Linked DNA regions of Homo sapiens: regions 1, 2, 4, 5, 6 and 7 are each linked to region 3. The links come from fine-mapping of genetic effects on gene expression. A gene starts in region 3. Each other region holds a variant in brackets. All regions are shown on one strand. Distances are from middle to middle.

Region 1 (4,190 bases), 120 kb before region 3:
TTTTTTTGAAATGGAGTTTTGCTTGTTGCCCAGACTGGAGTGCAGTGTCGAGATCTCAGCTCACTGCAACCTCCGCCTTGCGGGTTCAAGAGATTCTCCTGCCTCAGCCTGTCGAGTAGCTGGGATATAGGTGCCCACAACCAAGCCCAGATAATTTTCTGGTAATTTTTAGTACAGACGGGGTTTCACCATGTTGACGACGCTGGTCTCAAACCCCTGACCTCAAATGAACTGCCCACCTCTGGTTCCCAAAGTGCTGGGATTATAGGCATGAGCCACCACGCCTGGCTGACAAAAATATTTTTAAAAATTCTCCTAATAGCTGTTTTGTTTTGTTTGTTTGTTTTTTATTTTAGGATCTTGCTCTGTCACCCAGGCTGGAGTACAGTAGCACCATCACTGCTCACTGTAGCCTCGACCTGCTGGGCTCAAGTGATCCTCCCATCTCAGCCTCCTGAGTAGGGGACTACACACAGGCACCACCATGATCCGGTAATTTTTAAATTTTTTGTAGAGACTGGGTCTTTTTTTTTTTTTTTTTTTTTTGAGATGAAGTCTCTCTCTGTCGTCCAGGCTGGAGTGCAGCGGCGCGATCTCGGCTCACAGTAACCTCTGCCTCCCAGATTCATTCAAGTGATTCTACTTCCTTAGCCTCCCAAGTAGCAGGGACTATAGGCGCCCGCCACCACGCCCGGCTAATTTTTGTTTCTTTTTTGGTTGTTGTTGTTGTTCGAGACAGAGTTTTGCTCTGTCTCCCAAGCTGGAGTGCAATGGCACGATATCAGCTCACTGCAACCTCTGCCTCCCGGGTTCAAGTGATTCTCGTGCCTCAGCCTTCCAAGTAGCTGGGATTATAGGTGCGCGCGACCACGTCCAGCTAATTTTTGTATTTTTAGCAGAGACAGAGTTTCACCACGTTGGCCAGGCTGGTTTCGAACTCCTGAGCTCACACGATCTGCCTGCTTTGCCCTCCCAAAGTGCTGGGATTATAGATGTGAGCCACTGCTCCCTGCCCTTTTTTTTTTTTTTTTTTTTTCAGAGTCTCACTCTGTTGCCCAGGCTGGAGTGCACTGGTGCAATCTCGGCTCACTGCAACCTATGCCTCCCGGGTTCAAGTGATTCTCCTGCCTCAGCCTCCGGAGTAGATGGGATTACAGGTGCCCGCCACCACACCCAGCTAATTTTTGTATTTTCAGTAGAGACAGGGTTTCACCATGTTGGCCAGGCTGGTCTCAAAGTCCTGACCTCAGGTGATCCACCACCTCAGCCTCCCAAAGTGCTGGGATTACAGATGTGAGCCCAGCCCCTGACTGCTGTTTGAGATATATGTTAGTTTCCTGAATTTGTGCTGAATATGGAGATGCTCTTCTAGGCCAAAGAAGTATTAAAGAAAATGATTACCTTAAAAAGCTAATTTGGGCCGGGTGCGGTGGCTCACGCCTGTAATCCCAGCACTTTGGGAGGCCGAGACACGCAGATCACAAGGTCAGGAGATCGAGACCATCCTGGCTAACACCGTGAAACCCCGTCTCTACCAAAAATACAAAAAATTAGCCGGGCACGGTGGCGGGCGCCTGTAGTCCCAGCTACTCGGGAGGCTGAGGCAGGAGAATGGCATGAACCCAGGAGGCAGAGCTTGCAGTGAGCCGAGGTCGCGCCACTGCACTCCAGCCTGGGTGACAGAGCGAGACTCCATCTCAAAAAAAAAAAAAAAAAAAAAAAAAAGCTAATTTAAAGGCTGCATGCAGTGGCTCATGCCTGTAATCCCAGTATTTGGGAGGCTGTGGTGGGAGGATTGCATGAGCCTAGGAGTTTGAGAACAGCCTGGGCAACAAAGCAAGACCCCATTTCTTAAAAAAATAAATAAAAAAATATTAGCTGGGCACAGTGGTGTGCACCTATAGTCCCAGCTACTTGGGAACCTGAGGTGGGAGGATCACTTGAGGCCAGGAGTTAGAGGCTGCAATGAGTCATGATGTCCCACTGCACTCCAGTCTGAGTGACAGAGCTAGACGCTGTCAAAAAAAAAAAAAAAAAAAGGCCCGGTGCTGTGTCTCACACCTGTAATATCAGCACTTTGGGAGGCTGAGGTGGGCGGATCACCTGCGGTCAGGAGCTC[G/A]AGACCAGCCTGACCAACATGGAGAAACCCCGTCTCTACTAAAAATACAAAAAATTAGACGGGCGTGGTGGGGGGCGCCTGTAATCCCAGCTACTCTGGAGGCTGAGGCAGGAGAATCGCTTGAACCCAGGAGGCGGAGGTTGCAGTGAGCTGAGATCGCGCCATCTAGCCCAGGCGACAGAGCAAGAGTCCGTCTCAAAAAAAAAAAAAAAAAGTTAATTAAAAAATTGCAATGTACTTGAATTTCCTCAGGTATCACCAGTCTGTGGGTACAAAAGGAGAGTAACATGAACGATTCAAATTCCACTGGCTCTTGTTCCCATGGATTCACAGAAGTTCAGCCCCATTTCAAAACTTCACATTTGCTTCTGGGAAGCCCATTCTGGAAAGTTTCTCTGTGGCCCTCTCCAGAAGGCAGCGCGACTTCCACCCAGCAACACAAGTCTCTGCAGCACCTGCCCCAGCAGCGCCAGCTGAGCCCCGGAAGCTGGGAAGGCTTAAGCTGACTCTTCTGCTGCACATAGCAAAAAATGGTCATTTCTGTAGTTGCAGCTCCAGATCTACAATAATCAATCTATATCCATATTTTATGGGGTTTTTTTGAGACAAAGTCTTGCTCTGTTACTCAGGCTGGAGTGCAGTGGCATTATCATCATTCACTTGTAGCCTTGACCTCCCTGGCTCAGGTGATCCTGTCACCTCAGCCTTCCAAGTAGCTGAGACCACAGGCATGCACCACTAAGCCTGGCTAATTTTTCAATTTTTATTTTTCGTAGAGACAGGGTCTCCCTGGGTTGCCCAAACTGGTCTTGAATTCCTGGGCTCAAGCAATCCTCCTGTCCCGGCACCCCGAAGTGTTGGGACTACAGGCATGAGCCACTGTGCACAGCCCTTTTTGTTTTTGTTTTTGTTTTTTTTTAAAGGTAATTTCCCAGTGGAATCCTCGAGATTTCTTCACGTTTTTGGAAAAATGAGTTACATTTTAGATTGTTTTCCTTTTTGGAATTTAATGGTATACATTATATTACATAGCTATGTTGAGCTCTATTTCTATTACACTAAAAAGTAGGCTAATTGTCTTAACTTTCATCAGTAATGACATTAAATGTGTGAAGATTATACTTGGAATAAAGCACTTGGATTCATTCATTTCTTCAGTAAATATTTATTGAGCACTAGTATGTTCCAACGAGTGTCTGTCTACATTCTGGGGACAAGTGATAACTAAATCCCTGTCCTCGTGGAGAGTTAACAATCAACAAACTAACAAACATTTAATTTATGTCATCAACTCATTTCCACAAATATAACAACATCTTGACTTCAAGTTTCCTGAGTTTCTGGTCTAAAGAATTGCTACCTTCAAGAGCTCAAATCATTTGTTGGGGAGAGAGGCCTGTGATATATTTTCTCCTTTACAATGAAAGTAGCTGTAAAAAGAGGAAGAGAAATTCTGAGGGTAAAGATAAAAAATGTTGAAATCTTCTTTCTGGATTTCAGATTGAGTCTCTTGCCCTAATTGATGCAATTTACACTCCATGCATCTCCTTCCCTGGACCTTCTCCAGTTCTTGGGGACTACAGATGAACTTACTTTTAATGCATTTTATGGCATTTGGAGGCCCTCCAGTGGACAAATACTATACCTGAAAAAAATCCTTTTGCTGTGCTAAAGTGTTCAGGTGTGAAGTGTACTCATGTTTGCAAATCACTTTGAAATATATAAACAAAAATGAATTAATGGATGAATAGAGTGATGCATAGATCATTAGACATGTGATAAAAATAACTGTTAATTGTAGAATCTAGATGATGAGTATATTATATGATATGGCCCACTGTATAATTCTTTCAACTTTTCTGTTTGAATGTTTGATAATAAAATATTGAATAAAAATCTTTTTGCTAAAGATTTATGCCTTGTAGTTCACATTATTGAAAATTTTGCTGAGATAACGTAAATTACCTTTCAAAAATCATCTTAAAAATTGTCTTAATAAACATGGATTAATTTTTATTTTTATTTTTGAGACAAGGTCTTACTCTGTCACCCAGGCTGGAATGCAGTGGCA
Region 2 (4,190 bases), 370 kb before region 3:
CATACAGTACATAGGCACTATAATAGGTTTTAGGTGAGGTAGTGCATGTAAAACATTTTGAAAAGCTGCTTATACACCGTAAATGTATACTTAACATTGGTGAATAGTAGCTTTTTTTTTTTTTTTTTTAGCTACCATTAACTCTTAATTTTTCTTGAGACGGAGTCTCGCTCTGCTGCCCAGGCTGGAGTGCAGTGGTGCGATCTCGGCTCACTGCAAGCTCCGCCTCCCAGGTTCACGCCATTCTCCTGCCTCAGGCTCCCGAGTGGCTGGGACTACAGGTGCCCGCCACCACGCTTGGCTAATTTTTTGTATTTTTAGTAGAGATGGGGTTTCACCGTGCCATTAACTCTAATTTTAAAAGGGGCAAGTACAAATGCTTACTTAAGAAGTTCAGAGTTTCAGACACAAAGGAGAACATCTTTTAAAACTTTAGGTTTTATATAACCTGTTGCTGGTTATTTATCTGAACTCTTTCAGCCCTGTGATCACCATTCTCTGTAATCCTAGGGCTGGGAGCATACAAATTATATTTTCTGTATATCTTAACAGGAAGTTATTACATACTGTGAAATTCTGACGACAAGGCATTAGAAAAAGGAGGAGGAGCCACTTTCTTCCTCTCTTTTTCCTTCTTTCTTCTGACTGTATCTTTCTAAAAGTGATCATGTCCCTCCCATGGTCTCAGTTCCTGAGACAGTAGCTTTTCCTCCGTAACTCTGGTATCACTTCCCCTTTTTGTTTTCCTCTCAAGTTAAGGTTTAGAAGATATATGGAGAGCCGGGCGTGGTAGCTCCTGCCTGTAATCTCAGCACTTTGGAAGGCTGAGGCCGGCAGAACACGAGGTCAGGAGTTTGAGACCAGCCTGGCCAATATGGAGAAACCCCATCTCTGCTAAAAATACAAAAATTAGCTGGGCTTAGTGGCACACGCCTGTAGTCCCAGCTACTCGGGAGGCTGAGGCAGAAGAACTGCTTGAACCTGGGAGGTGGAGGTTGCAGTGAACCGAGATCATGCTGAGATCATGCACTCCAGCCTGGGCAACAGAGCGAGACTCCGTCTCAAAAAAAAAGAAGATATATAGAGAAAACATTCACTTATTTTATATAATGCTGAGTTATACTTTTTGAGCATTTAATGAAGTCCTACGAACTAGACAGTGCTGCTAGAGATTTCTGCTGGAGATCAACTAAGACAGAATGTTGTTGGGCACAAATATTTCAAAGGCAGGACTTCACGTACTGGGCAAGGGGAACTCTAGGAGTAGGCTGGATGCAATGGCTCACACCTGTAATCCCAGCACTCTGACAGGCTGAGGCGGGTGGACTGCTTTAGCCCAGGAGTTTGACACCAGCCTGGGCAACAAGGCGAAACCCTGCCTCTACAAAAAAATTTCAAAAATTAGCTGGGAATGGCAGTGCATGCCTGTAGTTCCAGCTATGGAGGTAGAGGTAGGAGGAATGATTGAGCCTTGGAGGTTGAGGCTGCAGCGAGCCATGACTGCACCACCGCACTCCAGCCTGAGCAACAGAGAGAAACTGTGGTGGCTGACAACTGTAATCCCAGCACTTTAAGAGGGTGAAGTGGGAGGATTACTTGAGGTCAAGAGTTCAAGACCAGCCTGGGCAACATATTAAGACCCCATCTCTACAAAAATAAAAATAAAAATAATTAGCTGGGCATGGTGGCGTGCTCCTATAGTCCTAGCTAGTTGGGAGGCTGAGGCTGGAGGATTG[T/C]TTGTGCCCGGGAGTTCAAGGCTGCAGTGAACTATGATCGCACCACTGCACTCCAGCCTGAGCAACAAAGCAAAACCCTATGTCTAAAAAACAGAATAGAATAGAATGGAATATTATCTTCCATTTTTAGGACTGTTAATCTTTAAGATTCAGTGGCAATTAGGCAATGCAGAAAAAAAGACAAGACACAGTCTCCGCTCCCTATCCCTTGGTTTAGACCAGGGGTATCCAATCTTTTGGCTTCCCTGGGCCTCACTGCAAGAAGAAATGTCTGGGGCCACACATAAAATACACTAACACTAACGATAGCTGATAAGCTTTAAAAAAATTAAAAAAAATCTCATAAGGTTTTAAGAAAGTTTATGAACCTGGGTTGGGCCACATTCAAAGCCATCCTGGGCTGCATGTGGCCTATGGGCCATGGGTTGGACAAGCTTGGTTTACAGGAAAGAAGAGACATATAAAGAAACAATGAAAATACCTGTTATGAACTAAACTGTGCTCCTTTCATCCTCCCCACACAAATGCATATGCTGAATGAAGCCCTAACCCACAATGTGACTACGTTTGGAGACAGGGCCTATAAGGAGGTAGTAAAGGTTAAACAGATTCGTAAGTGTAAGGCCTTAAACTGATACGACTCTTGTCTTTATATGAAGAGGCAGAGATACCAGAGTACTCTCTCTCTCCACTCACACACACAAGAAAGGCCCTGTGAAGACACAGCAAGAAGGTGGACATCTACAAGTCAGAGAAGCCTCATCAGACACCAACTCTGACATTGCCTCACTCTTGCACTTCCACCCCTCAGAATGGTGAAAAAATAAATTTTGTTGTATAAGCCACCCAATCTGTGGTATTTTGTTATGGTAGCCCAAGGTGACTAATATAACACTTATGATTAACTGCTATAATATACATAAGAAAGATATGTAACTACATTGGGGAGTTACGAAAGGATTCTTCAAGAAAGTGATGTCTGATGTCTAATCTAAATTTGAGAGAACATAGAGGATTGACTAAACAAAAGGGAAAAGGGCTACCCCACGCAAAGGGAGTTGCATGTCCAAAGACACATAGGCAAAAAAGCATGGAATGTTTAAGAAACAGCAAAGAGCTAGTTTAGCCTGGTTAAGGTGGGATAGAAATTCAAGGAGGGATTTGAAAACTCAGATTGCATCTTGAAAGCAATGATAACTAGTGAAGAAATTTAGATCTTAAGCAGCTGGTTTGAATTTGTCATTTAATAGGTAAATGGACAGAAAGTAGAAGATGATATGAGGTTTCCTGGCAGTAATCTTGGCAAGAAACTAGGCAACCAAGACATGCAGAAATGGGGATAGAGCTGAGAATACATAGCTGAGATACTTAAAAAGCATGTAATTGAAATAAAAAAAACTATACATAGTTATATAAAACCAAATCTGACTGCATTTGATTCTTTCTGCCTTTCAAGAAGTGCGAACAAGAATGAGGACATAACTCAGAGCACTGCAGCACCCTGCTTTTCCACAGGGTGCTGCAATGGAGACAGACATACAGTGGTTTTCAAAGGTAATGGCAGCCTGCCGAGGGTCATCAGAGTCACATCATGACTTTGGCACTAGCTGTGTGACTTTAAGAAGGTTAAGTCATTTCTCTAACTAAGCTTTACTAGGAGAATGTTTAGTGTTCATCATAAGGGCCTTATGATTAAACTTGGATTCTGAACTTAAAAATATCTCATTTAATGCCCAATCTAACCCGTGTTCCCTATTTAACTTAGAGGAACCAGTAAGTAAATTTCAGACACAATATAATTATACAATGTCAGTGAACTTTTAGTTACATTGGAAACTTGTTTGTCGTGGAATACTAGAAAGCAGCAATATCTTAAAAAGCACAATGCACTGTGATGTACAATCAATGGTACTGAATTACTCTAATAAACTATTGCAATTTCTGACCACATTCAAATAAAGTTTTCTCATCTAGGTAAGCCAGAAAACCTTTGAAGATAACTATACTTAAATTAAGCTCTCTTAAGTCCTTTTGAGAAGAAAACAAGAAAATGATAAAAATTATGATCACTATAACTAGAAAATACTGATAAGCAAATATGATCACTTCAGCAGTAATTATAATAGCAAAAAATAGCAATCAGCTTAACTGCCCAATATTGAAGTAGGACAAGATATTTTCTAGTAACTTAGAAGTTATATTTACAAAGACTTTGATATTATGACATTAGGTAAAAAAAAATGTAGCTGTTCATATAAAATAATCTCAACTATTTAAAAAGTATTATAAATTTAAAGGCAAGATGATGGGTAGTTCTTTTTTTCTTTAGCTTTTTCTACATTTTCCAAATTTCCTGCCATGAAAATATTATTATATCTTTAATCAGAAAACACATACACACATTCTAATAACAACAAACCACAAAATTATCATAGTCCACACCCTTTTATGTAT
Region 3 (4,190 bases):
CAGGGCGTGGTAGCTTGCGCCTGTAGTCCCGGCTACTTCGGACAAAAATTAGCCGGGCGTGGTGGCACGTGCCTATAATCTCAGCTACTCAGGAGGCTGAGGCAGGAGCATCGCTTGAATCTGGGAGGCAGAGGTTGCAGTGAGCTGAGATTGCGCCGCTGCACTCCAGCCGGGGCGACAGAGCGTAGAGCGAGACTCCGTCTCAAAAAAAAAACCAACCAACCAACCAACCAAACAACAAAACCCAAAAAAACTAGTTTTAAACATCTTAAATATTCAAAGTATTTTCTTCTACTTTTGCTAGAAAGTAGTAAAAAAGGGACTCCATCCAATTGCTGTAAATGACACCATTCAAAAGATACCAAGACAATAAAAACTCTCAATAGTAAAAAGGGAAAATGCCGTTTTCCTTAACCCTTTCAGATCAAAAAGTAATTTTTCAAAAATACATAGGCTAAATATCAAGAGCAAATGTTTAAATATAAGCAATATTTTTATTTTTAATAAGGAATAAGTTAGATTATTTAACTTATATTTTCAATCTTCAAAAGATACTGAGAAAACTTTACTTCCGTCCTCTATTATTGGTCTGGGGAGGCGGGAATCACAAAGCTCAACGATGCTAGTATAATACTGTGTATGGTCAAGGGCCTATTTTATAAGCTGTTAAAAATTTAACGCTAAAGCTTTACTAGACCAGTCTCTTTAAAACGTGAAAAAGTATTCACTACTAAGTCATATCACCTCCACCATAAAAACTACTGTACTTTTTAAACAAAAAATAAAAACTAGCCAATGTTTGCTGCCCATTCATTTTACAGGCATTAACTGTGTATCCTTCTCATAATCAGATTTCAGAATTAAGTGATTATTCTTCGAGGTGTACCTTACCCAAGATAAAAATTTTCCCCAGCTTATTTCCCATTCCCAACCCCCGCCAAGACTAAGGAGCAACCACTTCCCAAAGTCCCACTTCCTTTTTCATTCCCCAGACCTACAGGGTTTCCAACGCCCCAGTCTTGCGCAATATCCGTAGGAGCAGCAGCCGCAACCACCGCCTCCTAAGCCGGGAAACAACCCTAGAGGGAACATTGTCCAGCAGAAAAATAAAAAGGGCGGGGGTTGGGGGGGTGGGTAACGTAGGAAGTCGACTTCTGGTCTCACGCCTTCGGATCTGACCCCCTCACAGTGTGCTAAAGCAATAGTGTATCTAGAGCAATTTCATGAACAAGACTTTTAACCTTCACCTCCTCTCAAGACTGCCTGCACAAGCAGAGGGCGGAAAGTAGGGGGTGGCGGAGGCGGGGGGGCGCTGGGAAGGTTATCTCCCAGTTCAGGGCTTCGGCCCGTAGCGTCGCCTCCGCCCCACCAGGACTATTGTTCCCAAGTTCCCCACCCCCACCCCGGATAGGAAGTGATAGTCACATCCCCTCCGCCTTCGGCAATATCCCCTGGGGAGTCCGAAGTCGGCTGGCTTCCTTCAGGATAATTCCCCCACCCACACTTATCCCCTGAACCTATAGTCACACGGACCCCAAGACCACCTCAAACCTGGGCCTCAGGAGAGGAGAAGCGGGACGCGGGTAAATGGAAATTAGGTAAACCCATGAGATTCCTTATGGGCAATCCTTTCCCAAGCGTTGGAGATCATGACTGCGACCCCAGAAACGGCCTAAGTCCTACCCTGCCCGCTTTGAGACCAGCTAGAGCAAAGGGATCCCAGGAGTTAGTGCCAACCTCAATACCCCCGTTCCTCTGTCAGCCACGATCTGCACTCCTCCCGGTCACAGCCAGATACCTTGCCTCGACCCTCCTGGGAGGAGCGAACTGCGCGGGGAGGTGTGGAAACGCGAGCCCCCCCCCCCGGCCTGCACCTCACTTGCCTACGGCTCCCGGCCCGGTAAACAATAGGTGGTCGCGAGCCACGGTGCAGGCTGCGGGCTCGGCCGCGCGGCCGCTCCCTTCGCGTCCCGGGAACCCGCGCGGGGGTCGCGAACATGGGAGAAGAAAGGAGGCCACGGGGGGAGGCGCTCTCGCCTCCCGCTGGCCTCCGAGACCACCCGGCTCACCCGGCTGGTGCGCGCCCCCTCCGCCCCTCTCCTCACAGAGGTACACAAAGCACTGGCGGCCCGGCCGGGAGAGGCGGCGATGGGCTCCGGCGCCGGCAAGAAAACGCGACAGCGAGGGGAGAGACTCACCATGAAGTCCCGGGCGAAGTTGTCCTCCCCATTGTGGTCAGGACTCTTCATGGCCTGGACCCTCTGGATGAATTTCCTCAGGATCTCCACTTGCTCCATCCTCCCGCGTCCCCCCGGCTGCGGTCGCTGGCCCCCCCGCCGCCCGCCCGCCCGGCACAGAGCCCGCTCCGTCTTCCCCAGCTCGTTCCCCCAGCACGTCCCTCCCTCCCGACCCCGCCAAGCCCCGCGGCTCCCTCCTCCTCCCCACCGCCCTAGGCGGCGGCTGCGGCGGCACCGGCTGGGCTCCCGACACCACAACTTCCAGGAGCAGCCGCCGCTCTCCCACAGTACCAGGCGAGCCGCTGCGCTAGCGCCAACCCCAACCCCCAGCTTGCTCCATCCTCCTTCCCCGCCCTCCTCCTCCGTCGGAGACGCCGCCGCCGCCGCCGCCGCCGCCGCCGCCTCAGGAACACAGCTAGCTCTCCGCTCGCCCTGCCCCCCCTTCCCGGTTCCTCCTCCCCCCCACCCCCCGCCAGCAGCCGCAGCCGCAGCCGCAGCCGCCTCTCCCCACGGGCGCGTCCCCGCCGCCACCCAGATGCGCGGCCTCGCGCTGCGGCTCCGCCCCAAGCGCTGCGCCCGCAGATGCATCCCCGCCCGCCTCCCGGCCACGCCCCCAAGCCCGCCCCGCCGGCCCCAGCCCCGCTTGGAGTGGCTGGAAGGCACTTCAGCGGGCGGCCTGGAGACCTGACTCCATTTCCGGGGCGTGGCCCCGCCCGGGGTGCTCAGAGGTCGGAGTATCGCTGGGAGGAGAGTTGGTTCATTTGGAGGAGGGAATGCGACTCTGAGCGGGCCAAGCCCTAGTGGGTCAGAGTAGGATTCTGATGGAATTTGCGGTCTCACCGCCTACTAGGGAGGAAAAGCAGTTTTCAGGAGTCCCGCACCGCCGCCAGCCGTGGGCTGGGACTACAAGTCACGGTCTGTGGAGTCCAGGAGTGGGGGCGGGCGGGAGGCAGGCTGGGAGCTGTAGTAGTGTCACCGCCACGTTCGCAGCAGGTAGATGCTCATCTTGCTAACGGATTGGTGAGAGTGGACAGCAATTAGGCTTTGGCACCTTGGAGCGTGGCTCCAGCTAAGGGAAGCGAAACGCTTCCTGGGTGAGAGGACTTTTATTCTTTGCTCATCCTCTTAAACCTGGCGAGTGAGCGCCTGAGGTTCGGAGTGCCTTCTTCACAGACGACGCGAATGTGGGGTCTTCGTGTTTGCCGAACTGAAGGGAATTTGCCTTCCTGCCTTTAGGTTCGCAGCAGTTCATAACTGAATAAGAGACTTTCCTCCATAGAATGGACTTTATAAATCTATTAATTTTTTTTTTTTTTTTTTTTTAGAGCTAAGGTCTTGCTCTATCTCCCATGCCAAAGTGCAGTGCTATGATCACGGCTCGCTGCAGCCTTGAACTCCTGGGCTCAAGGCATCCTCCTGCCTCACTACGTCACCAAGCCCAGCTAATACATTTTAAAAATTTATTATTTATTTATTTATTTATTTTTGGTAGAGAAGGGGGTCTCACCAGGTTGCCCAGGCTGATCTCGAATTCCTGTGCACTAGGGATCCTCAGCTTCCGAAAGTGTTGGGATTTTAGGCGTGAGCCACCGCGCCTAGCCTATAAATCTTTATTCATCTTTGTAAACTTCTATCAGAGAATATATTCTGGTCTAACTCATCATTTTACAAATAAAGCGACTTCCTGACATCCCCCAGCGTATTCTTAGCAGAGCCGTAACTAGAAGTTATTTTACTTTCACAACAGTGGCCTCTCACAATGTGACAGAACTGAAGGATTTGATCCATGAACTGACTTTCGTCATTTATACCCACAAACCTTTTTTTACAGAGCAGATTGGTCAGCGAATTTGGTTATAATAGGAAATATCAGTGGTAGAATACTTTCTCAGATGAAAGTTAGGAGCACTATGGAATTTAGTGAAAAACTCATTGAAGAAAATAGGTGTAGGC
Region 4 (4,190 bases), 50 kb after region 3:
TTTGGTGTTAATGACATCATCTTCATCGTCACTATTATTGTGATCATCTTGATCCAGAACAATTTCAGCTATTTCACCATTGGTCAATGAATGAACAACTGGAGGCTCATTATCAATGTTAAAAGCTTCTTTGATATCTACTTCTTCCAGCTTACTGATGCATATATATTATTATTTTGCATATATAAGGTCAGACATTCATGTTTTCCTCACTTGACATATGAAATCCTTCAAAGTCACTACTTAGTTCATCATCATCATCACTGCACATAGTCACAGGTTAGAGGTTGCAGGCATGCAAAACTGTATCTTTAGTCATTGTCTTCCAAGCATTGGCAACAGCATGTATGGCATCTTTCATGCTAAACTCTTTTTGCAAACCTTCCACACCCACACCTCTTGTCACTGCTGCTAGCATGCTGTTCAGGAAAGTGTTTTTATATTTACTCTTCATTGATCTAAGGATACCCTGGCCACATGGTTGAATTAATAAAGTCACATTTTGGGGAAAGTAGATGGCATAAACATTTTTGATGAGAATTTCAGCAGGAGGGTGAATAGAACAGTTGTCACGTGTAACAAAATCTTGCAGTCATCCTCCAGTTTAGCTTCCCTGCAGTGAGCATGAACTTCTGGTACAAAACATTGGAGCACCAATCAGAAAATATGTCCCTGGTGATCTGTGCACTTTTGTTAGCATAATAATAGTCTGGTAAGAAATCCACTCCCTTAAAATAGTGAAGACATAAGCTTTTGCCTGTCACAGCAAGTTTACAATGTGTTTGTGTGCTGCATTAGCATATCCCAGTACAGTTATTCTGTCCTTGGCATCCTTAATTCCTATAGGGGCTTTCTCATCAGCTGTAGTCAGTGTCTTCCTGGGGCAGTAACACAAAACAGTGATGTTTTATAAGCATTATAGACTTGTTCTGGTGTCAGATTTTCATCAGTGATAACTTGGGCACGCTCATCAATCATTGCTGCTTTATGATCAGCAGATGCTTTATCACCTCAAATTGTAAAAAAAATAATGTTGTGTCTTAAATGTATGCAGCCAGATATATTGAATATTCACAGTTCCCTTCAATTTCCAGTTCATCATAAGTCTTTGCTCATTTCATTATCAGCATGACATTAAGTGGCAAGTGTTCACTGCATCGCTGACCGATCCAATTTTTCAATACATGATCAAGACCATTATTTTTAGTTTTATGCAGTGTTTTTCTGTTTTTACTAATTTTTATTCATTATTTTTAGCATAGAACTCCAACTGTTTATCCTTCTATTGTTTCAGGTCATATATGGTGGTCATTCTGACACCATACTCTTCTATTAAGATGTTTCACATTCGCACCACTGTCCAGTTTCTCCAACAGCTTGACTTTCTGTGCTATCCTATAAACATAAATGCTTCCTCTTTTGTTGGTATCTGCAGGCCTTTTGAACATTTTTTCAGCAACATCTTTACACCACAGGGTAGAAAATAAACAAGAAAACACAAGGAGCAATGCATGTAGGTCTTTACTACATGTAGGGCATTTTGGGGAACCGGCTGTTGGCACATCCAGTCTGCACATGTGCTATTTTATTACGTTTTATGGGTGTGCTTTCATGGAGGAATTTGGTCATGCACAGAAAATATATATTGCAGCTGAACTGGGGTGGAAGGGTCTTTTTTCCCTTGGAGAC[A/G]TTGAATAAACTCTGTGTTGTATGCCTGCATTTTTACTGTGATCCATCACTTGGGGTCAGGTGTATCAGACTTTGGAGAATTTTGGATTTCAAATTAGGGATGCTCAACCTTTGTGTGTGTGTGTGTGTGTGTGTGTGTGTGTGTGTGTGTGTGTGTGTGTGTGTGTGTTTTGAGACGGAGTCTTGCTCTGTTGCCCAGGCTGAAGTGCAGTGGCGCAATCTCGGCTCACTGCAAGCTCTGCCTCCCGGGTTCACGCCATTCTCCTGCCTCAGCCTCCGGAGTAGCTGGGACTACAGGCACCCGCCACAACGCCCAGCTAATTTTTTGTATTTTTAGTAGAAACGGGGTTTCATCGTGTTAGCCAGGATGGTCTCGATCTCCTGACCTCGTGATCTGCCCGTCTCGGCCTCCCAAAGTGCTGGGATTACAGGTATGAGCTACCGCGCCCGGCCAACCTTTGTGCATTCTTAATCCCATCCACAGCATCTCAAGTTAAGTAACTTGGCCAACAAAGTGCACCAAGTGGGCGTGATAATGATAGCAATGACATGAGGAAACTGTTTCCAAAGGGGATTAGGCAACCTCCCCAAAGTCGCTCACTAAGAAAGTGGCAGAGCCAGTTCTAACTCCATAGTCCAAAAGCAGCACTGTCAGCCTGGAAAGACTACAGAAACTTATAATCTTGGCCAGGCGCGGTGGCTCACGCCTGTAATCCCAGCACTTTGGGAGGCCGAGGCGGGTGGATCACAAGGTCAGGAGTTCAAGACCAGCCTGGCCAAGATGGTGAAACCCCGTCTCTACTAAAAACACAAAAATTAGCCGCGCGTGGTGGTGGGCACTTGTAATCCCAGCTATTCGGGAGGCTGTGGTAGAGAACTGCTTGAACCCGCGAGGCATAGGTTGCAGTGAGCCGAGATTGTGCTACTGCACTCCAGCCTGGGTGACAGAGTGAGAGTCCGTCTGAAAAATAATAAAAAAAAGGAAACTTATAATCTTAGAATTGAAAGAGACTTCATAGATCATCTAGTTTGTTCAAACTCCTCCAGCACACCAATTTTACATATGTAGAAACTGAAGTACAATAATATTAATGTGCTTTCAAATGAGGATAAGATGTGAAAGTATTAGTTCAATTGAATTCTTTGTTGAGTGTGTTGTAGGTATTCACATTTTAGTAAGTAAAGAAGAGGATGCTGTGATAATATCTGGACAGAAGGATGTTGCTGGCAGTGGGCTAATGATCAGTGAATGAAGTGAACAAGATCCAGGTGTTTGTGCTATACTGGGCTCCCCACCCACATTCCTCATAGTTCCCCTATTTTCCTGTCATATGCTTATAAACTGTTGAGGGCAACATGGGAGTTTAGAGAAATCATAAAGGTGTATTTTAGGAGTATGCAGTTCCCCCAAATTAGCCTGTTCTTTACCAGTTTCCAGTTGGAAGTACTTTTGTTATCAAAAACAATTACAAGAAATTGCCCATTAAAAGGAAATATGAGTAGATCTGTAAGCCTGAACTGTAAGGTTCTCTAGATGGTCTGTTTACTAGATCTCTTGCAGAATAAAAATCATTTGTAATGTGATAGGGTCTTTTTTTGCTTTGGACAGAAATGAATACTTTACTCATGGTATTTCATTTTTAACAACTCCTGGCCTGGCACGGTGGCTCACGCCTGTAATCCCAACACTTTGAGAGGCCGAGGTGGGCAGATCACCTGAGGTCGGGAGTTCGAGACCAGCCTGACCAACATGGAGAAACCGTCTCTACTAAAAATACAAAATTAGCTGGGCATGGTGGCGGGCGCCTGTAATCCCAGCTACTCAGGAGGCTGAGACAGGAGAATCACTTGAACCCAGGAGGCGGAAGTTGCGGTGAGCCTAGGTCGCACCATTGCACTCCAGCCTGGGCAACAAGAGCAAAACTCTGTCTCAAAAAAAAAAAAAAAAAAAAAAGGGCAACTCCTTTGCTTCTCATTCAAAGCAAAGCTCATCCTCCCCTACTATCTTCAGTCATGTCCAGTTAAGTGTACACACTCCACAAAGCTACCTTCTATCAAAGAACTTTTTCCTGTGAGAGAGCCACTTCTTCCAGGATACAGATTCTACAAACTCCCTCTCTCTAAGGAGCTGGTTCCAGTGTTTCTCATCCTTATAATCAGGAAGTTCATCTTTGCGTTTACCATATACAATCCACCACATTTCTCCTGGCTGTGCTTGCTGTGCCACTGGGACAAGCTAGACAAAATTCAGTTACTAGGGAACCTTACCAAACTCTCAAGGGATTGGCTACTGCCATGTGAAGTACCAGGACAAATTGTAATGTGCCCACCATGCCCTTTAAGTGACAGTAATCCCCCTCTGATGCCCAGCTCAGTCTGGCCACTCCTGGAGATTTTAGTACTCCCAATTTATTGTAGCCCTCTTCCTCACATTCCCCAGCAAAACAACTACTATTAGCTATTAAGTGTGGAGAAAAGTGATTATCTAATTAAATATTTTC
Region 5 (4,190 bases), 130 kb after region 3:
GGATTTATGATACACCAGATTGACTTGTCTTTCAAATATTGTAATCTTTGCCAGGGAAGTGGTATATTTTACCAAGTGACTGATTCAAGAATAATACTTTTTTTGGTTGCCTCCTATGTATTCCTAGATTGATTTGGGGGCCAGAGGGTTACCTTAATCACATTGTTTTCACTTTTTTTTTTTTTTTTTTTTTACTATTTTCTTGCCACTATCTGTCCTTTTTACTTTTTTTTCCGCTAATTCTTTCCTAGTCTCCTCTTCTAATTCTCATCTCTCTCTTAACTTCATTTTACTCAGAATATGAAATATAAATCACATAATGTTTACTGCATAGGTTTAGGAATTATAATAACTGGTCATCTTGAGCCTGAGGATTTATATGAATTATTTACAGAATAGGAATGTTATAGGTATAATCATATTTTGTCACCTCTTGATGTATGTATTAGGAACTAGTTCAAAATTTTGTATAAGGCTGAATGACGTTTTTCTCCTTAAATATGGTCATTGGAAAGACAAATACTTTAATTTTTGTCTCATAGCAGTTTGGGATAAAATGTACACATTTGAGAACCCCTATTCCTGTAAAGTGAAATCACTTTTGTTTGACAAAGAATAGATTGAAACGAATGAGAATATCTGGCCAACCAGCTTTTGTTTTACAAGAGCTATGCCTTGCCAATATCTTTAATATCTAGGTACTCTCGTTTCTTTTATAGGTTTACCTATGCAAGTATCTATCAAAATGCTACATTGTTTTATTCATGAGAACTGAATATACTAAACTGTGAAATTAAGCCACATTTCCTCATTTGAAATTGCAAAACTTCTTCCTCTGGACTTTCCAGTGATGAACTACTGGGAGAAGAGTCAGAATGAATAAGCAAAGAGGTTACTGAATACTTCTTTTAAAAGGGTGTGTTAAGACATGGGCAACTCGTCCAGGGAGGAAGAGCCGATGGCTTAATAGTATGTGGTGAGACATTGGTCTCTGGATTTGCAACATTACCAAATTTGTCTATTTCACATGTCCTTGAAATGTGAACTGTGTACTTAACTGCAGGGTATTCAGCCCTGCAGTTATTACCTAATGTTCCCATGAAAACATTATTTTTATTTCTTTCAACTCTCTGTCTACCATGGTTATATTATAAGATGGTCCAAGTTATGCCCTCTAACAAATATTGCTTAATATGTAATGTACATTTGTAGTTCAATGGTTCTTAACCCTGGCTGTACATTAGAATCACCCAGGGAATCTAAAACACATACATGTACACCAGAGAGTGGGCTCCACACCAGCTCAATAAAATCAGAATATCCTGGGTATGGCTTGGGGCATCAGTGTTCTTTTAAAAGCTCCCTTAATGATTTTAAGACAGCCAGAGTTGAGAACCACTAGTTTAATGGGATAAAAATGTGTCATTTATTGTAATCTGCGTTTGTTGGAGAATTTTTTCTCTTAGTATTATAGTAATCTGAAAATAGATACGCTTTTGCAAGTAAATTGGATTTAGCAAGATTTCTTGTGAAGGAGTTCTTATCTTAGCCGAAACCTTTTAACTGTACTTTTGCGACGATCTCTCCTCGCATACTTATAATCTTGAAAGAAAAAAAATACTTCTCAAAATATTGACACATTGCATTCCAGAAGTTTTGAGTC[G/A]TGTACAGGATGAACAAACTCACTGAAATTCTCTTTAGATGTCTACAATATCTGCCTTTCAAAGGACTTTTGAGTAATTACCCATTTTCTCATTGTAAGCTTGATACAGAACACTCAGTCCATTGTTCTGTTTACCTTTTTCTAGGTTTGAGTTCAGTCTACGCCACCTTTTCACTGTATATTGGTCAAGTATCATTATCTCATTGAAAAGTATAGTAGGCCTGGAATACCTTATACAATGCAGATGAGATAGAAATGAGAACTCTCTAAATTGTGAAGGCCTACTTAGCCATAAGCTTATTATTATTATTAAGAGACAGGGTTTTGCTGTGTTGCCCAGGTTGGTCTTGAACTCCTGAGCTCAAGCCATCCTCCCACCTTGGCCTCCCAGAGTGCTGAGATTACAGGCGTGAGTCATCATGCTTGGCCCATGAACTGATTATTTAAATCCTAGTCTCCTAAGAGACCAAATTATTATCCTTATTATCCTTCAGTGTGAAGTGAGTCTGACAGCTCCATATACATGTCAATATACTGACAAACGTTTATACCCATGTATAGAAAACACTTTGCCCTATCCCTTTGCCCTGCCCCTAGGAGACCCACTAAGCTGCTGCTTGTGAGGGGTGGGGAAGAGAGATCTCAGGATGATGTCTAAGTTCTCAGTGAAACCTGGTCTTCCTCTCTCTAAATGTTTCCCACCTCCAGCTCCAGTGCAGGTGTCCAGCTCACCAATTATCCTTATTTTTTATCTTGTCTTTTCCTTTTAGGAATACAGACAGAAATTTGCTGAGTTACAGATAGTTTGCATATGTTTTGTCTGAATATTAGAATTTGTCATAATCAATGTAATTAACATGTAAAAACTATTCCTGTATGGGAAAAATGAGTCAAATTTAAGCAATTTATCTTTTCTTTTTTTTTTTTTTTTTTTTTTTTGGAGGCAGAGTCTTGGTCTGAAGTGCAATGGCTCAATCCCGGCTCATTGCAACCTCCACCTCCTGGGTTCAAGTGATTCTCCTGTCTCAGCCTCCTGAGTAGCTGGGATTACAGGTGTGCACCACCGTGCCCAGCTAATTTTCTGTATTTTTTAGTAGAGATTGGGTTTCACCATGTTGACCAGGCTGCTCTTGAATTCCTGGCCTCAAGTGATCCATCTACCTCAGCCTTCCAAAGTGCTGGGATTACAGGCGTGAGCCACTGTGCCGGCCATAATTTTGGATAACTTTTGAGGAAATTGGGAAAGTACACACTTCTGCCCAATTAGTGATAATTACAATGGTGAATCTACCAGTGTTTAAATCCTTTAACTGTAGAATTAGGAGAAATATCCTAAAATTTTAGAAGAAAGATGGTCAGTTAACTTATAGGTTAAATGTTTTGTGTAAAGAGTCTGTATATCCTTCAGCAAAATAGGGCTTTCATATAGACAAGGACACAAGTTATAAGTTCACAGCTTAGTTAATTTTCACCAAGTGAAACACACTTATGCAACTAAGACTCAGAACAGGAAGGAAAACATTAATGGAACCTCAGAAGTCCTTCATGCTCCTTTCTAACAGTCACTTATCTAACACTGTACATTAGTTGTGCCCATTATTGAAAACTTGTGTATGAATTGAAACATACAATTTGTACCTTCTTTTGGTGGTGGGGAAGGTTCTTTTGCTCAGTTTCACATGTGTTATTGCAGAATATTAATTCATTGTTTTGTACTATTCCACTGTTTGGATATAACACAATTTATTCATTCTTCACTTAATGGATAGTTTGGGTTTCTGGTTTGGGCAATAATGTACCACAGTACTATAGACATTCTTATGTGTCCCTTGCTAAATATATGTATATATTTCTTTTGAAGATATATGTACAAGTGCAGTTGCTGAGTCATGTGTTCAGCTTCACTAGATATTGCCAGTTTTCCAATTTATACTCCCATTAACAATGTATGAGAGTTTCAGTTGCTTCAGATTTTTTTTGCATCACATAATACTAAAACATAATAAGTCAAGGATGCCTGTTACAACTTTTAGTATAACTAATAAAAGAATAGCAAAAACATATAACTGACAATAGGTAATAGAATGAAATAATAAACTTAGAAGAGTAGTAAAACAGGTGAGACACGTAGAAAACAAATAGTAATATGATAAATATCAACCCAATATGTTAGTAATTACATTGAATGTAAAAATGGACTACATATCCCAATTAAAAGATTAAGAATGTCAGATTGGAGGAAAAAATCTCAAGTGGATACTGCTTATAAAACATATCTTCAATATAAGGACACAGGAAGATTAATAACAGAAAGTTATGCAAGCACTAACCAAGCTGATGTAGTTATACTAATATCAGACAAAGTAGACCTTAAAGTAAAAATAATTATTAGAAATAAAGGACATTGTATAATGAATAAAGGGTTGCTAATCCAGCTCCTATATTAAAAACTTATGTGTAATTTTTCAGACCCAACTATGTGCAGTTACAAAGACTTTATCTGACAGGCCTTATGGGAGAAAGCTGC
Region 6 (4,190 bases), 29 kb after region 3:
CATGTGTATATTCTTTTGAGAAGTCTCTGTTCATGTCCTTTGACCATTTTTTTTTTTAATTTATTTTTTTATTGATAATTCTTGGGTGTTTCTCACAGAGGGGGATTTGGCAGGGTCATGGGACAGTAGTGGAGGGAAGGTCAGCAGATAAACAAGTGAACAAAGGTCTCTGGTTTTCCTAGGCAGAGGACCCTGCGGCCTTCCGCAGTGTTTGTGTCCCTGATTACTTGAGATCAGGGATTGGTGATGACTCTTAACGAGCATGCTGCCTTCAAGCATCTGTTTAACAAAGCACATCTTGCACCGCCCTTAATCCATTTAACCCTGAGTGGACACAGCACATGTTTCAGAGAGCACAGGGTTGGGGGTAAGGTCACAGATCAACAGGATCCCAAGGCAGAAGAATTTTTCTTAGTGCAGAACAAAATGAAAAGTCTCCCATGTCTACTTCTTTCTACACAGACACGGCAACCATCCGATTTCTCAATCTTTTCCCCACCTTTCCCGCCTTTCTATTCCACAAAGCCGCCATTGTCATCCTGGCCCGTTCTCAATGAGCTGTTGGGCACACCTCCCAGACGGGGTGGTGGCCGGGCAGAGGGGCTCCTCACTTCCCAGTAGGGGCGGCCGGGCAGAGGCGCCCCTCGCCTCCCGGACGGGGCGGCCGGCCGGGCAGAGGGCTGACCCCCCCACCTCCCTCCCGGACGGGGCGGCTGGCCGGGCAGAGGGGCTCCTCACTTCCCAGTAGGGGCGGCCGGGCAGAGGCGCCCCTCACCTCCCAGACGGGGCGGCTGGCTGGGCGGAGGGCTGACCCCCCCACCTCCCTCCCGGACAGGGCGGCTGGCCGGGGGGGGGGCTGACCCCCCCACCTCCCTCCCAGACGGGGCGGCTGGCCGGGCAGAGGGGCTCCTCACTTCCCAGTAGGGGCGGCCGGGCAGAGGCGCCCCTCACCTCCCAGACGGGGCGGCTGGCCAGGCGGAGGGCTGACCCCCCCACCTCCCTCCCAGACGGGGCGGCTGGCCAGGCGGGGGGCTGACCCCCCCACCTCCCTCCCGGACGGGGCGGCTGGCCGGGTGGGGGGGCTGACCCCCCATCTCCCTCCTGGACGGGGTGGCTGGCCGGGCTGAGGGGCTCCTCACTTCCCAGTAGGGGTGGGCGGGCAGAGGCGCCCCTCACCTCCCGGACGGGGCGGCTGGCCGGGCAGGGGGCTGACCCCCCCACCTCCCTCCCGGACGGCACGGCTGGCCAGGCGGGGGGCTGACCCCCCCACCTCCCTCCCGGATGGCACGGCTGGCCGGGCGGGGGCTGACCCCCCACCTCCCTCCCGGATGGGGCAGCTGGCCGGGCGGGGGGCTGACCCCCCCCACCTCCCTCCCGGACAGGGTGGCTGCCGGGCGGAGAGGCTCCTCACCTCCCAGACGGGGCGGCTGCCGGGCAGAGGGGCTCCTCACTTTTCAGACGGGGTGGTTGCCAGGCAGAGGGTCTCCTCACTTCTCAGACGGGGCGGCCGGGCAGAGACGCTCCTCACCTCCCAGACGGGGTCTCGGCCGGGCAGAGGCGCTCCTCACATCCCAGATGGGGCGGCGGGGCAGAGGCGCTCCCCACATCTCAGACGATGGGCGGCCGGGCAGAGACGCTCCTCACTTCCTAGATGTGATGGCGGCTGGGAAGAGGCGCTCCTCACTTCCTAGATGGGATGGCGGCCGGGCGGAGACGCTCCTCACTTTCCAGACTGGGCAGCCAGGCAGAGGGGCTCCTCACATCCCAGACGATGGGCGGCCAGGCAGAGACACTCCTCACTTCCCAGACGGGGTGG[C/T]GGCCGGGCAGAGGCTGCAATCTCGGCACTCTGGGAGGCCAAGGCAGGCGGCTGGGAGGTGTAGGTTGTAGTGAGCCGAGACCACGCCACTGCACTCCAGCCTGGGCACCATTGAGCACTGAGTGAACGAGACTCCCTCTGCAATCCCGGCACCTCGGGAGGCCAAGGCGGGCGGATCACTCGCGGTTAGGGGCTGGAGACCGGCCCGGCCAACACAGCGAAACCCCGTCTCCACCAAAACCAGTCAGGCGTGGCGGCGCGTGCCTGCAATCACAGGCACTCGGCAGGATCTTCTATCTGTCCAAACTGGGACCGAGTCCTCGGCCTCGGAGGCTCCACGCTCCCTCTCTCACAGCCCGCACCTCGGCGGTCTCTCGGAGGAGGGAGGAACCCGAGGTACCTGGTAGTCGTAGCTGAGGAACTTACAGGCTTGTTGACCATCTCACCATGGAAACTCGACCATTTTTTAATGGGGTTGTTTTTTTGTTTTGTTTTTGTTTTTGTTTTGAGACGGAGTCTCACTCTGTCGCCCAGGCTGGAGTGCAGTGGCGTGATCTCAGCTCATTGCAAGCTCCGCCTCCCAGGCTCACGCCATTCTCCTGCCTCAGCCTCCTGAGTAGCTGGGACTACAGGTGCCCGCCACCACGCCTGGCTAATTTTTTGTATTTTTAGTAGAGACGGGGTTTCACCAATGTTAGCCAGGATGGTCTTGATCTCCTGACCTCGTGATCCGCCTGCCTCAGCCTCCCAAAGTGCTGGGATTACAGGCGTGAGCCACTGTGCCTGGCCAGGGTTGATATTTTGTTTTTTTGTTTGAGATGGAGTCTTGCTCTTGTCACCCAGGCTGGAGTGCAGTGGTGTGATCTCTGCTCACTGCAACCTCTGCCTCCTGGGTTCAAGTGATTCTCCTGCCTCAGCCTCACGAGTAGCTGGGATTACAGGCACCTGCCACCATGCCTGGCTGAGTTTTCGATCTTTTGTAGAGACGGGGTTTCACCATGTTGGCCAGGCTAGTCTCAAACTTCTGACCTTAGGTAATTCGCCCATCTTGGCCTTTTCATTCTGTTTTGTAGAATGGAGCCTAACCCCGCCCCCCCCCCCAAATAAAAATAAAACAAATTTTCAATTACAATGAGCAATGCACAAAGATATTGAGGTACATAAGGAAGTCTGGCCCTGTAAGCAAGATTCAAAGGAAACAGCAGATATTAGAAACAGATCCACAGACTATAAAACAACTATGTATGTCTGTAATTAAAAAAATAAAAAGACAACTTGAAAATATCTTCAGGTAACAGAAAACTATCAAGGGATATAGCATATTGAAAACAGACATTTTGACCAAATTGAGTAAATTTAACTAGTTTGTTTTTTCTCATGTTTAAACTTATTAATTAAATTAATTATTTTAGTCTTTCTAGTGTCATGTTTTAAAACCTAAATCAATGTACTATGGCCAAAAGTGTTAATCTCAACAGCCGTGGAGAATATAAGTGTCATTACTGTTATTATCATCATATATTAGAAAAGTCACAGTATCTCAGCAAATAGTCATCATCAAGTCATAGTATTTTACTTACAATGATACAGATTCATGATGTCCTTCCATTTGTACAAAGGTAATTAGTTCTGACTCTTAAGTCATTTATCTGACAATCTGTCCAGCTTAAAGATATGAAACCAACCTTAAACCCACTGAAAAAAGAACTTACCACTAGATTCCTGTATCAGTCAGGAATAGCTTCAGCTGTGAGTAAAAAAAAAAAAAAAAAAAAAAACAAAAAACAATGGCTTAGTCTAGAGCTGAGGTGGCCTGGTACTCTTGTAGCTTCCATTCCCAAGGTCACCTCTTGTTTCAGCTGGGCTACTCCAGCCATCACAACCATATTCCAGTCTGTCTGAAGGAAGAAAAGAATAATCGGGGGCAAAGGACCCATCAGCTCTCTTATAAAGACGGTTTCCATGAACTGCCATACTTTGCTTACCTATAAGAAAGAGAAAAGCATGGCCAGGTACAGTGGCTCACCATGCTTATCCCAGCACTTTGGGAAGCCAAGGTGACTGGATCACTTGAACCCAGAAGTTCAAGGCCAGCCTGGGTAACATAGTGAAACCTTGTCTCTACAAAAAATATAAAAATTAGCCGGGTGTAGTGGCACACACCTGTAGTCCCAGCTACTAGGGAGGCTGAAGTATGAGGATCACTTGAGCCCAGGAGGTCGAGGCTGCAGTGAGCTGTGAGTGTGCCACTGCACTCCAGCCTGGGTGACAGAGGGAGATGCTGTCTCAAAAAATGAATGAGAAAAACAGCACCTGACATCTAAGAGCTGCCCGAGCAGTCACAGTAAAACTTGGTGTTGTCCTATTAAATATA
Region 7 (4,190 bases), 150 kb before region 3:
AAATGTCTCTCCTGGGGTTAATTATGCTGCCAGAATTTTCATATGGAAGAACATCAGCTCATTTTGATACTTATTTTAAGAAAGGGATAGGAGGCCTATAAAATGTGTATCAGGAGCCTTATTCAATAATATAAATCTCTGAAAAGAAAAGCTTAAGTTTTGTGGTTGTTTAAAAAAAAAAAAAAGGTTTGTGGTTCCAGTCAATTCTCCAGGAAGAGGAAGCTATTTTAGGTAAGAACTGGTAGGTAGAGAGTAAAGTGTATTTATCCACACCTTGAAGCCTAGGTCTGGCAAAGAAATGTAAGGAAAAATGATAGACTCATAGAATGTCTGAATTGCAAATGCAGCCCTGTACGTAATTTGTTAATTTTCTTTACTATCCTTTACTTTCTTTTTGAACAGTGAATAACCTCCAGAATAACCATTCTTGGCTTCATAGTTTGAGCCACACTGTCAGACCACTTGTGGTTAAGAGGATAGTGTTTACTGAGTGCCTTGTGTATCTCTTATGTTTGTGGGTGTTATGCATCATCCCAGTTCTACAAAGCTTTCCAAGGCATTTTTCAAAACTGAGCTGGAATTTCATGTTTATTCTGACTCTACACCAGTTTTCTTTCTAATATATCCTATTTTGCAAGAGGAAGCAGAAGTCTAAAGCATCAAAATGTTAAATCCAGACATTGGTCAGGGCTCTTTAGAAGTTTAAGTTAATTTAAGTTTTATGTTTAGAAAATAGGCATTCAAAAAAGATGCAGTGTTTCTTAGAGTGCTGGTAGATTCCAGTGCTTTTATCTCATAGAAAAGAACAGGTTTGAATGTGTCCCCGAAAGTTGTGTGTCCCCCAGAGTTCATGGGTTAGAAACTTAATCTCTAATGCAACAGTGTTCAGAGGTGGGACCTTTAAGAGGTGATTAGGTTATGAGGGCTCCGCCCTCATGAAAGGATTAATGCCATTATCCAGGAGTAGATTAGTTTTTACAGGATCGGGTTCCTGATAACTGATAACCCACAGTTAGAAGAGTGCAGTTTTGTACAAATACTGCACATGCCAGTAGAGCCAACAAAGTACAAAACTATGACTGTCACAAAGTTATTTCATAATTTTAATTTTGCAGATTCTGCTTTGAAAAGCTTGTCTGTATGATTTATGTGCCTTGAGGTAACAATATGATGCTATCCTAATACATATTTTGCCTCAGATTCAAGTGCTGGCTCTTCTTGATTCCCCTCAAATTAATAACTACTTCTATACCATTAGTTTGAAAATAGATGAATAATTAAAACAGCTAAAGACCCATCAAGGAAATAACCTCTCTCTCTTTTTTTTTTTTTTTTTTTTTTTTTTTTTTTGAGACGGAGTCTCGCTCTGTCGCCCAGGCTGGAGTGCAGTGGCGGGATCTCGGCTCACTGCAAGCTCCGCCTCCCGGGTTCACGCCATTCTCCTGCCTCAGCCTCCCCAGTAGCTGGGACTACAGGCACCCGCTGCCGCGCTCGGCTAATTTTTTTCGTATTTTTAGCAGAGACGGGGTTTCACCGTGTTAGCCAGGATGGTCTCGATCTCCTGACCTCGTGATCCACCCGCCTCGGCCTCCCAAAGTGCTGGGATTACAGGAATGAGCCACCGCGCCGGGCCTAACCACTCTTTTATTTAACTTTTAAAGCTAACCCAATAAGTCTACTTTTTCTTATTTTTCACGTATATTAAGTGTTTAGTCAGTAAATACTTAACACCTACCTGTTGCCAGGCACTAGGCTAAGTGCTAGAATATAGCAAGAGATATGGCAGACATGGTCTCTGTCCTCATGGAGTTAACTTTAATCACAAGATCTGTTTCCAAATAATCTGTTGTTTAAGACTATGTTGTTGGGGTGAGGTGGGAGGGA[G/T]AGCATTGGGAGATATACCTAATGCTAAATGACAAGTTAATGGGTGCAGCACACCAAGATGGCACATGTATACATATGTAACAAACCTGCACATTTTGCACATGTACCCTAAAACTTAAAGTATAATAAAAAAAAAGACTGTGTTGCTCTGTTGTTCAAGACTGTGATCCTATTTATTACTGATGACAGTCAAACAGTATTAAGTGTCTACAATGGGCCCAGCACTGTGTGACAATGTAATTAATAATATAATGAGATTAGTAAGCAAAGAACATGGGGAAAGACTTTCTAGGCTGAGGAACAAGCATTTGGAAAGAGATGAGAGTAATGACACACTCAATGTGGTATTGTTTATGAGAAGTTCATTGTGGTTCAAGGATAAGGGACACGAAGTGCCGTAAAAGGAGAGGGCTCTCTAAAATGGGTGAGAGCCAGATTGTGTAAAGTGTTGCTCTTGACTGCCTTGGCATGCTGAGGAGTCAGTAAATACCTTTTGTTAACTTAAGGGCTTTAATGAGGAAGAGTGAAAAATGTTTACGTAACCATTTTGACTTCCTGCTCATTCCTCACAGGCTTCACCAGGTACTGCCTTCTAACGAGCTGGCCATTTCCACATGTCAGATAGGACCAACTTGCCTTTTAACTACCCGTGTGATACTTAAACACTGTTGCCGGTATCACAGCTTTTCTTCAAAACAGGTAATATTAGGGACACTTGAAATTTGGGAATTAGATTTACCTTTGCTGTTACTAAATAATTGTTAGAATTTTAAATGTCATATTCATTTTACTCAACTAATCTCTTTAGCTTTCCTATTTATATTCCTACTTATGATTACGTGTAATTCTCATTGGAAGGATTAAAATATTTTGAAAGTAAGACAGTAAAATTGTGAAATACTTTGGTATTGGTTACAAAACAGTACTTAGGTACCTTCTTCCTGATTTTTCTGTATTTTTAAAAAATAAGGCCAGGCACAGTGGCAAATGCTTATATTCCCAACTGCCCAGTAAGCTGAAGCAAGAGAATTGCTTGAGCCCAACCTGGGCAACATAGTGAAACCCCAGTCACCAATTAAAAACAAACAAACAAAAAGAGTATATTTTTTGAAGATATTTTATCACATATACAGAAGCAAACAAAGAGGGGAAGGAATTGTTTAAAATAATGTTAAGCTAAATAAAGTCAAAGAAAATTTAAGTAATAGTTAATAGTTATTGTTATAGAAGACATCAATTTACTACCCCGTTCTCAAAAAGGAAAATCTGCAAGTAGACTGTAGTGCTAGAGTAAGCTTTTCCTTAATTTCAGAAAGCCTGTATTAAGCATTTACTTTATGCCAAACTCCATTTTAGGGACTGGAAATATAAAATAAATAAAACACAGTCCCTGCTCTCAGTGAACTTGTTGTCTAGGGAATGTTAAGTAGAACCACCTGAAATTGCATTGTTTTTGTAAGCCAGCTATCGGTTCCACCTGACATTATATGTGGAAACAGAAATTTGCAATAATAAAGATATGACCACGGTGCTACGGGGCACTGACAAAATGCTTCATGCTGCCCAGGGCAGTCAGTGAAGGCTCCCCAGGGGAGATGACGTTTGAGCCGAGTTTCAGAAGATGATTGGAGTTTACCACGTGTTCACAGGAAGCAACGAGAATGAGGGCATTCCAGTAGCAGGAGACAGCATGCATAGAGATGCTGATGAAGAAAGAGCCTAGCGCACGTGGGAAACTGCAAAAGTTCAGACTGGTTGGAATGCTGGAAATGTTGTGAATGACAGGAGATGAGGCTGGCGAGAAAACAGAGGTCAGATTGTGGAAGGCTGTCAAGCCAAAGACTTTGATTTTATTCTTGAGATTGATGAGATGTGTGTAATCCAGGAGTGTGCAAAACAATCTGTAAGGGTTCAGAAAACATACTGCTTCTATATATAGTTACCTTTGTCTTAACTTGAAAATTTCAAATTGTGTAGGAGTTACAATGTGTGTAATTGTTATTATAGTACTGGATCCAAATAATTTATAAATAAATAAATATAGACATAATATGGTGTATTACAGGTTAAATTGTGTACCTCAAAAATTCATGTTTAAGTTCTAACCCTCATTATCTCAAACTGTGACCTTATTTGGAAATACTATCATTGCAGATGCAATAGTTAATGAGGTCAAGTTAAGAAGCAATAGGAGGCCAGGCATGGTGGCTCACACCTGTAATCGCAGCACTCTGGGGAGGCCAAGGTGGGTGGATCACCTGAAGTCAGGAGATCAAGAGCAACCTGGGCAACATGGTGAAACTCCG

Alleles and levels. Positions count from the first base shown, and alleles are read on the strand shown. Sizes are in standard deviations (SD) of each study's normalised expression. Not every link is listed here.
In carriers of allele T in region 6, the expression in spinal cord of the gene that starts at base 2,549 in region 3 tends to be lower than with C alone (small effect, 0.38 SD a copy in GTEx).

Evidence for each region. PIP is the estimated chance that this variant, and not a neighbour inherited with it, causes the effect.
Region 1: its variant is fine-mapped to the expression of PTPN12 in lung (TOPMed, PIP above 0.99). The same link has a PIP of 0.9 or more in whole blood.
Region 2: its variant is fine-mapped to the expression of PTPN12 in whole blood (TOPMed, PIP above 0.99).
Region 4: its variant is fine-mapped to the expression of PTPN12 in whole blood (TOPMed, PIP above 0.99).
Region 5: its variant is fine-mapped to the expression of PTPN12 in fibroblasts (GTEx, PIP above 0.99).
Region 6: its variant is fine-mapped to the expression of PTPN12 in spinal cord (GTEx, PIP 0.99).
Region 7: its variant is fine-mapped to the expression of PTPN12 in whole blood (INTERVAL, PIP above 0.99).

What each region holds. Positions count from the first base shown.
Region 1 is chr7:77,657,500-77,661,689 of GRCh38, reverse strand. APTR (Alu-mediated CDKN1A/p21 transcriptional regulator) reads left to right here. Exons shown (of 2, transcript NR_134254.1): 2 at 2,372-4,030. It overlaps LOC105375363 (a long non-coding RNA gene), which reads right to left. Exons shown (of 3, transcript XR_927695.3): 3 at 3,269-4,190. Among named protein-coding and RNA genes, the nearest start is that of APTR, 37 kb to the left of the region's middle. The variant G/A (reference allele first, on the strand shown) is at 2,120.
Region 2 is chr7:77,902,874-77,907,063 of GRCh38, reverse strand. All of the region lies in intron 6 of PHTF2 (putative homeodomain transcription factor 2), which reads right to left. Among named protein-coding and RNA genes, the nearest start is that of DDX3ILA1, 85 kb to the left of the region's middle. The variant T/C (reference allele first, on the strand shown) is at 1,737.
Region 3 is chr7:77,535,654-77,539,843 of GRCh38, reverse strand. PTPN12 (protein tyrosine phosphatase non-receptor type 12) reads right to left here and starts at 2,549. Exons shown (of 18, transcript NM_002835.4): 1 at 2,199-2,549. The coding sequence starts at 2,297. LOC124901681 (a long non-coding RNA gene) reads left to right here and starts at 2,895. Exons shown (of 3, transcript XR_007060395.1): 1 at 2,895-3,473; 2 at 3,563-4,190. RefSeq lists silencers at 2,010-2,059, 2,200-2,409, 2,660-2,959 and enhancers at 3,030-3,249, 3,420-3,469.
Region 4 is chr7:77,485,707-77,489,896 of GRCh38, reverse strand. No RefSeq gene overlaps it. Among named protein-coding and RNA genes, the nearest start is that of PTPN12, 49 kb to the left of the region's middle. The variant A/G (reference allele first, on the strand shown) is at 1,690.
Region 5 is chr7:77,407,102-77,411,291 of GRCh38, reverse strand. The region is part of intron 1 of GSAP (gamma-secretase activating protein); the gene reads left to right. Among named protein-coding and RNA genes, the nearest start is that of GSAP, 7.2 kb to the left of the region's middle. The variant G/A (reference allele first, on the strand shown) is at 1,664.
Region 6 is chr7:77,506,456-77,510,645 of GRCh38, reverse strand. No RefSeq gene overlaps it. Among named protein-coding and RNA genes, the nearest start is that of PTPN12, 29 kb to the left of the region's middle. RefSeq lists an enhancer at 985-1,960. The variant C/T (reference allele first, on the strand shown) is at 1,817.
Region 7 is chr7:77,683,595-77,687,784 of GRCh38, reverse strand. The region is part of intron 1 of APTR (Alu-mediated CDKN1A/p21 transcriptional regulator); the gene reads left to right. Among named protein-coding and RNA genes, the nearest start is that of APTR, 11 kb to the left of the region's middle. The variant G/T (reference allele first, on the strand shown) is at 1,885.